Homo sapiens: one gene and its partner. The protein of the gene in region 2 purifies or fractionates together with the protein of the main gene of each other region. This does not show direct contact. Each region holds a gene or a part of one and is shown on either strand. Other genes may lie near its edges.

The links.
Region 1: the proteins of LIPK (region 2) and ABHD17B purify together in Homo sapiens (affinity purification with mass spectrometry; one large-scale study listed by BioGRID and IntAct). This does not show direct contact.

The regions. Positions count from the first base shown.
Region 1 is NC_000009.12:71,869,481-71,873,317, reverse strand, and holds part of ABHD17B (alpha/beta hydrolase domain-containing protein 17B), read left to right. Parts: intron 1-3,055; coding exon 3,056-3,235; intron 3,236-3,837. UniProt on the Homo sapiens protein: Hydrolyzes fatty acids from S-acylated cysteine residues in proteins. Has depalmitoylating activity towards DLG4/PSD95. Has depalmitoylating activity towards GAP43. Has depalmitoylating activity towards MAP6. Has depalmitoylating activity towards NRAS.
Region 2 is NC_000010.11:88,747,745-88,751,581, reverse strand, and holds part of LIPK (lipase member K isoform 1 precursor), read right to left. Parts: intron 1-3,837. UniProt on the Homo sapiens protein: Plays a highly specific role in the last step of keratinocyte differentiation. May have an essential function in lipid metabolism of the most differentiated epidermal layers.

The DNA of each region.
Region 1 (3,837 bases), on a different chromosome or scaffold from region 2:
AGAAATTGCATTAATCTTTTCTAGTCACCAAGATACCTAAACATTTTTCTTGAAAAAAAAATCACAATTTGGTAGACTTCAGTGTATTATTAGTCAGGTTAGTGTACAATAAACAGATACCTTAATATAGGCTATTCTTTATATTATATGAAAATAAAATATCTGACTTCCAGGATGTTTTAGACTGAAGCTATAGGATATAAAGAAAACTTACTGTTTCTAATTTAATGTTTAAATATTAAAGATTTCATTTAGTCAGGAAAAATTTCCTCAATTTTAATAATAAAGTAGTTAATATTATTAAAGATATTAAAAATATCTTTAAAACTATTTTTCCCTCCAAAGAAATGTAATAAAGTTATGCTCTCATAGCGAAGTTCTACATAAAAGGGATTCTTAAAATCAACTGAAATTATATAAAAACATAAATATGGGGAATAAGGAAAAAAAGATGGCAAGTAGTAGGTAAAGAGTTGATGGGGGATGGTAAAGTTATTGTTTAATTGATAAATTAAAAACTGCTTTAAATAAAAATCTTTTACATATATTGATATCAGTTCCATCAAGCCTTAAAACAAACAGAAACTGAGTGCCCACTTTTTAGAGTCAGTCAGTTGAATAACGTATAACAACTATAAGAAAGTATTATAATTAAAAAAATAGCTTTATTGAGTGATAAGGTTCACACTTTTAAAGGTTAACTTCAGTGGAATAATGAAGTTTTAAAGGGTGCTAAGTTAAAACTGATAGCCAGCTTTCATTATTAGTGCTTCCCAGTAACGCAAAAGGGTCACTTTACTCAAACAAAACATGTTAGTATTCAGTTCAGTGTTCTGTGTCTATATGAAAAAATCCCATTTTTTAAGTGGTCAACTTTACTGTTTTTTTCTTTTCTTTTCTTTTAATCTTGGCATTTACCAATTTGAAGAAAACTTTGAAAAATGATTTTCAGCCTTAATTTTTTTAACATATTTGATAGCCAGTGTTAATCAGGAATGGGCAGATTTCATCAATAATCCCACATACTATTTTAGCACTTATATTTTAGAATTTTAGACCTGTGTTTTCTTTCGTGTTGAAACCAAAATATAGTTGGAGTTTCATAAGTGTAGGTACTTTAGGAAATATTACTTCTCTGAGCCTGTGTTTCCTCATCTGTTTAATGAAGAGATTGAATTAAATGATCCCCAAGATCTTTTCCAATTCTGGAATTCTGTCATCTAATGAAATGTGTGTAATTAGAATACATGCCTTTTATTTTATTTGCCTGATTAAAAGTTAGGACTTAAGTAACCAGGAGAGAGAAAATAAATAATGAACTTAAATAATGTTCATTTTTGGGATGAATGAACATTGGAATGTCCTTTTTGGGAAAATTGGATATCCATAATAACTCCAATTTCTGACCTTCTGATGGACCAAAAGAAACTCGGGGCCTGGCATTCACTATGCACCTTTCCCACAAAGTCCTTGAGTTCCTCATCTGTGTGCTTCAGAGGTAAAAAACACTGAACTGGGAGTCAGTATACCTGGGTTCTAATTATAGAGCTGTCATCTACTGGTGACTTTGAAGATCTGCTCATTAGGCAGCTGGACTCTAGATTAGATGGTCTCTAAACTCCTTTCTAGCTCATACTGTTAGGCAGTTGTTACTCTTGTGAGTCCCCTCATGCTTAATTGTCAGCTACCTCTGCGACTCTATCCTTGAGCATTGTCATTGCTAGCTGTAGCCCAAATTTCATGATTGCCACCAACAATGCTGATATTCAGCTGACAGCAACAATGCAGCCTCAAGAACTGTGGTCATGCTGCAAATGTTCATTCTCCTAATTTCTTCATTCGTATGAAATATGTGCAACTAGGTCTGTTGTAAAGAAAAAAGCTTTTCTGAGTTTGCTAATATTTAGAGTCAATTTGAAGTAGACAGAGCCCCACTTTCTGTGTCCTATACAAATGCTTGTGTAGTACTGACTTGAAGAAACTATATGGGGAGAGCTGTGTTACTACCTGTATAGTTGAAATAGTATTATGCCCCTGGAAGAGAACACACGGACAGTTTCCCTCGCTCTTTCCTGGTGAATATCCAGATTCTTAGAAAGATATTTTACCTTTGCAAAAGATTTCCAAAAGCAGCTGTTATGTTCTTAGCTGCCAGAGTGACTGCTGTCTGCCTTCTAAGTGGAAAGGTGTATTTAATGTCACTATAACCTTTAAGCCCACATTCATTAGCTCAGGTAGCACTGTACTTACACTTGCAGTAGTTTACATTTGGGATGATTATACTGTAGACAAGTAGCAAGCAGTTCCTTGAACATACTAGGTACCCAATAAATATTTATTGAGTCAATGAGTTTTCATCTATTTAAACCTGTGGCCATTTTAAAGGGATTAAAATAGTACCTTGTAATTTTAGCGTAAAGTCTAATCATAAATAATTGGACCATGTGGTGTTTGGAATTCTTTTTTATCTTTTCAACCATTAGTCCATTTCTACAACTAAGCAAAGATCAATTTTAAGAAAAATCGTAAAATCATAATTTGCCCTTTACTAAAACCATACATATATTCATTTCATACCATAACTATATGTAACAGTTCATCAATATGACCAATTTTGGAAATTAAAATGAGCCACTCTTGATGTGTGGAGAAATAAATAACTTTTGTTACACTGAACGGAAAATAAATATGACCTATTCATTCAACATCAGTTCATTAAAATATTAGTGATATGCCCCAAGCTTAGTCAGCAGTAAGCTAGGTTGAAATATTATAGTGTAATAAATTATTTAATAAATTTATTTCTTAAGATTGAAATCTTAAAATACCTCAGCAATTATTCTTCCAAAAGATGAAGTAGAGAAACACATGAAATAAACTGATGATACAGACTTTATTGTAATGTTAAAACTAACAGTAATAGCTAAGAAACTTAAGTTTAAAAAATGGATTAGTTGACATTGTCTTATTCTAAGATCAAATCCTTTGGAATGATGGAACATTTCATATCACTCCAACTTTTTTGGTTTTTGTTTTTAACGCCTGAACTTTGTAGATATGGCATTCGCCCTGAAAATGTGATTATATATGGCCAAAGTATAGGGACAGTACCGTCTGTGGATCTTGCTGCTCGATATGAGAGTGCTGCTGTTATTCTTCATTCTCCTCTGACTTCGGGAATGCGAGTTGCCTTTCCTGATACCAAGAAGACCTACTGTTTTGATGCATTCCCAAAGTAAGTAGCAATATTCAAAATAGTTAAATTCCAAGAAACTTGGGAATTTTTTCATCATTTAAAGTATTCATGACACAGTTCACTCAACCATAAACTTCATTTTATATATATTAGCACATAGAAATTATGAAAAATTAATTTGTAAAGAGGGTATTAGCAGGTGACCAGTCAGAAGGCTGAAATGTTTGAGGAGTAGTAATCCAGATGAAAATTGCTGAGGGCCTTACACCTCAGGTGGTGGCACTAGTATTGGAGACAAGGGAATTAATTTGAAACATAAATTTGACAGAACTGAGTATCAGACTGGGTGTAGGATGCTAAAGAGAAAAACTTGAACATGACTACCATGTTTCTGCCCTGAGGTGCTAATGGATAGGGCCATCCAGTGAGACACTTGATGTTAGAGAAGAACAGGTAGAAGCTAAAATGAGTAAATATCTGATTAATGATACCTAACTTACAAAAGAAGTGAATTGAAAAAAAGTTGAATCTTAAATTAACTAGATTAGTAAGTATTGCTGCCACAAAACCTGCAAACATACTTAGATGTATTTGAAAGGAAAGTAGCTACTTTTCCTTCATGCTTCTCAAGACAGGAGGTA
Region 2 (3,837 bases):
ATAGTTGTTATAGTAGTTGTTATGATGACATTAAAAATTCCCACATTAAAATTTTTTGGCTGGGCATGGTGGCTCACGCCTGTAATCCCAGCACTTTGAGACACTGAAGCAAGAGAATCGCTTGAGCCAGGAGTTCAAGATTAGCCTTTACAACATAATGAGACCCTGACTTTATTTTTAAAGGTAAAAGAAAAAAGAAATTAAAAAAAAGAATTTTTTTTTCCCAAATTTCTACATCCTAGATTTGAAAAACCCAAGTATCATTCATGACTACTTTTTCAGTTTAAGCTCAGTCTATCGGCAAGAAGCCAAAATCATTATTGGATTTCCTCACATACTTGGGAATAAAATAACAATAACAATACACATTTCCCTTTAATATAAAACTTTTCTCTAAAAGTTTTCGTAGATCTGGTGACACACCAGATCGAAAATAGTACTATTTGCTAGGGAATGACATGCTAAGGCACACTATCCCTGGCAGATACTACTACCTCCTAAAAATGATACTTCTTACTTATATCTTTAATGATCCATATAATGGTATTTAAAAAGTGGCTAGTAAATGACATCCTAAAGAACTATTAGGCAGTCTTAGTTATTAAACATAGATAAGAAGTCAGAGAATATACTTTAAAAACAAACATGTTTTTTGTTTGTTTGTTTGTTTTTTGTTTTTGTTTTTTTGAGAAGGAATAAGTGTAGTGGAGAAGACTAGACTTTAAATCCAGGAAACCTGGGTCGTATTCTGGTTGATTTTTTTCCCCTTCCAACTTTTATTTTAGATTCAGGGGGTACATGTGCAGGCTTGCCACATAAGTAAATTGCATATCATGGAGGTTTGGCTTACAAATGATTTTGTCATCCAGGTAATGAGCACAGTACCCAATAGGTAGTTTTTCAATCCTCACTCTCCTCCCAGCCTCCACCCTCAAGTAGGCCCCAGTGTCTATTGTTCCCCTCTTTGTGTCCATGTAAACTCAATGTTTAGCCCCCACTTATAAGTGAGAGCATGTGATATTTGGTTTTCTGTGCCTGTGTTAATTTACTTAGGATAATGGCCTCCACCTGCATCCACATTGCTGCAAAGGACATTATTTCATTCTTTTCAATAGCTGCATAGTATTCCATGGTGTATATGTACCACATTTTCTTTATTCAGTTCACCTCTTATGGGCATCTAGATTCCATGTCTTTGCTATTGTGAATAGGTGCACAATGAACATACGGGTACATGTGTCTTTTTGATAGAACGATTTATATTCCTTTGAGTATATACCTAGTAATGGGATTCCTAAGTCAAATCATAGTTCTGTTTTAAGTTCTTTGAGAAATTGTCACATTGCTTTCCACAATGGCTGAATTAATTTACATTCCCACCAGTGGTGTATGACCATTCTTTCTCCACAACCTCACCAGCATCTGTTATTTTTTGACTTTTAAATAATAGCCATTCTGACTGGTGTGAGATGCTATCTCATCATGGTTTTGATTTTCATTTCTCTAATGATTATTGATATTGACCATTTTTCATATGCTTATTAGATGCATGTATGTCTTCTTTTGAGAAGTGTTTGTTCATGTACTTTGCTAACTTTTTAATGGGGGTGTTTGGTTTTTTTGCTTGTTAGTTTGCTTAAGTTTCTTACAGACTTTGGATATTAGATCTTTGTCAAATGCATAATTTGAAAATGTTTTCTCTTATTCTTAGGTTGTCTGCTTCCTCTATTGATAGTTTCTTTTGCTATTCAAAAGCTCTTTAGTTTAATTAGGTTCCACTTGTCAATTGTTTTTTGTTGCAATTACTTTTGGCATCTTTATCATGAAATTTTTGCATCTTTATCATGAAATTTTTGCATCTTTATCATGAAATTTTTGCCAGGTCCTATGTCCAGAACGGTATTTCCTAGGTTTTCTTTTAGGGTTTTTATAGTTGTAGGTTATACATTTAAGTCTTTAATCCATCTTGAGTTAATTTTTGTATATGGGAAAAAGAAGGGGTCCAGTTTCAATCTTCTGCATATGGCTAGCCAGTTATCTCAGCACCAATTATTGAATAGACCATCCTTTCCCCATTGCTTGTTATTGTCAACTTTGTCGAAGATCAAATGATTGCAGGTGTTCAACTTTATTTCTGGGTTCTCTAACCCATTCCATTGGTCTATGTGTCTGTTTTTGTACCAATACCATGCTGTTTTGGTTACTGTAGCCTTGTAGTATAGTTTGAAGTCAAGTAATGCCTCCAGCTTTGCTCTTTTTGCTTAAGATTGCCTTGACTATTCAGGCTTCTTTTGGGTTTCATATGAATTTTAAAATAGTTTTTCTAATTCTGTGTTAGATGTCATTTGTATTTTGATAGGAGTAGCATTGAATCTGTAAATTGATTTGGACAGTATGGCCATTTTAATGATATTGATTCTTCCTATCCATGAACATGGAATGTTTTTCCATTTGTATCATCTCTGATTTCTTTGAGCAGTGTTTTAAAGTTCTCATTGTAGAGATCTTTCATTTCCCTGATTAGCTGTATTCACATTTTATTCTTTTTGTGGCTATTATGATTGGGATTATGTTCTTGACTTGGCTGTCAGCTTGGACATTGTTACTGATTTTGGTACATTGATTTTGTATCCTAAAACATTACTGAAGTTATTTATCAGTGTAAGGAGCCTTTAGAATGAGACTATGGGGTTTTTTAGATATAGAATCACATCATCCATGAAAAGAAGTAGTTTGACTTCCTCTCTTCCTATTCGAATGCCATTTATTTCTTTCTCTTGTGTGATTGCTCTGGCTAGGACTTCCAGTACTATGCTCAATAGGAGTGGTGACAGTGGACATTCTTGTCTTGTTTCAGTTCTCAAGGGGAATGCTTCAAGCTTTTGCCTATTCAGTATTATGTTGGCTGTGGGTTTGTCAGAAATGGCATTTAATATTATTATTGTTTTCTTTTTTTTTTTTTTTTGAGACGGAGTCTTGCTCTGTCACTTAGGCTGGAGTGCCATGGCACAATCTCAGCCCACTGCAACCTCTGCCTCCTGGGTTTAAGCTATTCTGGTGCCTTAGCCTCCCAAGTAGCTGGAATTACAGGTGCCTGCCACCACACCCAGCTAATTTTTGTATTTTTAATAGAGATGAGGTTTCACCATGTTGGCCAGGCTAGTCTCATACCCCTGACCTCAAGTGATCTGCCCGCCTCAGACAGGATACATGTGCACAATGTGCAAGTTTGTTACATAGGTGTACATATGCCATGGTAGTTTGATGCTCCTATTGACTCATCCTCTAAGTTCCCTTCCCTCGCCATCCAACCCTCACACACAGGCCCGGCTGTGTGTTGTTCCCCTCTCTGTGTCCATGTGTTCTCATTGTTCAACTCCCACTTATGAGTAAGAACATGTGGTATTTGATATTCTGTTCCTGTGTTAGTTTGCTGAGGATGATGGCTTCCAGCTGCATCCGTGTCCCTGCAAAGTACATTATCTCATTGGCTGCATGGTACTATGACTGCATAGTATTCCATGGTGCATATGTACCACATATTCTTTATCCAGTCTATTATTGATGGGCATTTCCGTTGGTTCCATGTCTTTGTTATTGTAAACAGTGCTGCAGTAAACATACATGTGCATGTATCTTTATAGTAGAATGGTTTATATTCCTTTGGGTATATACCCAGTAATGGGATTGCTGGGTCAAATGGTATTTTTGATTCTAGATCCTTGAGGAATAGCCATGCTATCTTCCACAATGGTTGAATTAATTCACATTCCCATCAACAGTGTAAAAGTGTTCCTATTTCTCCACAGCCTCGCCAGCATCTATTGTTTCCTGACT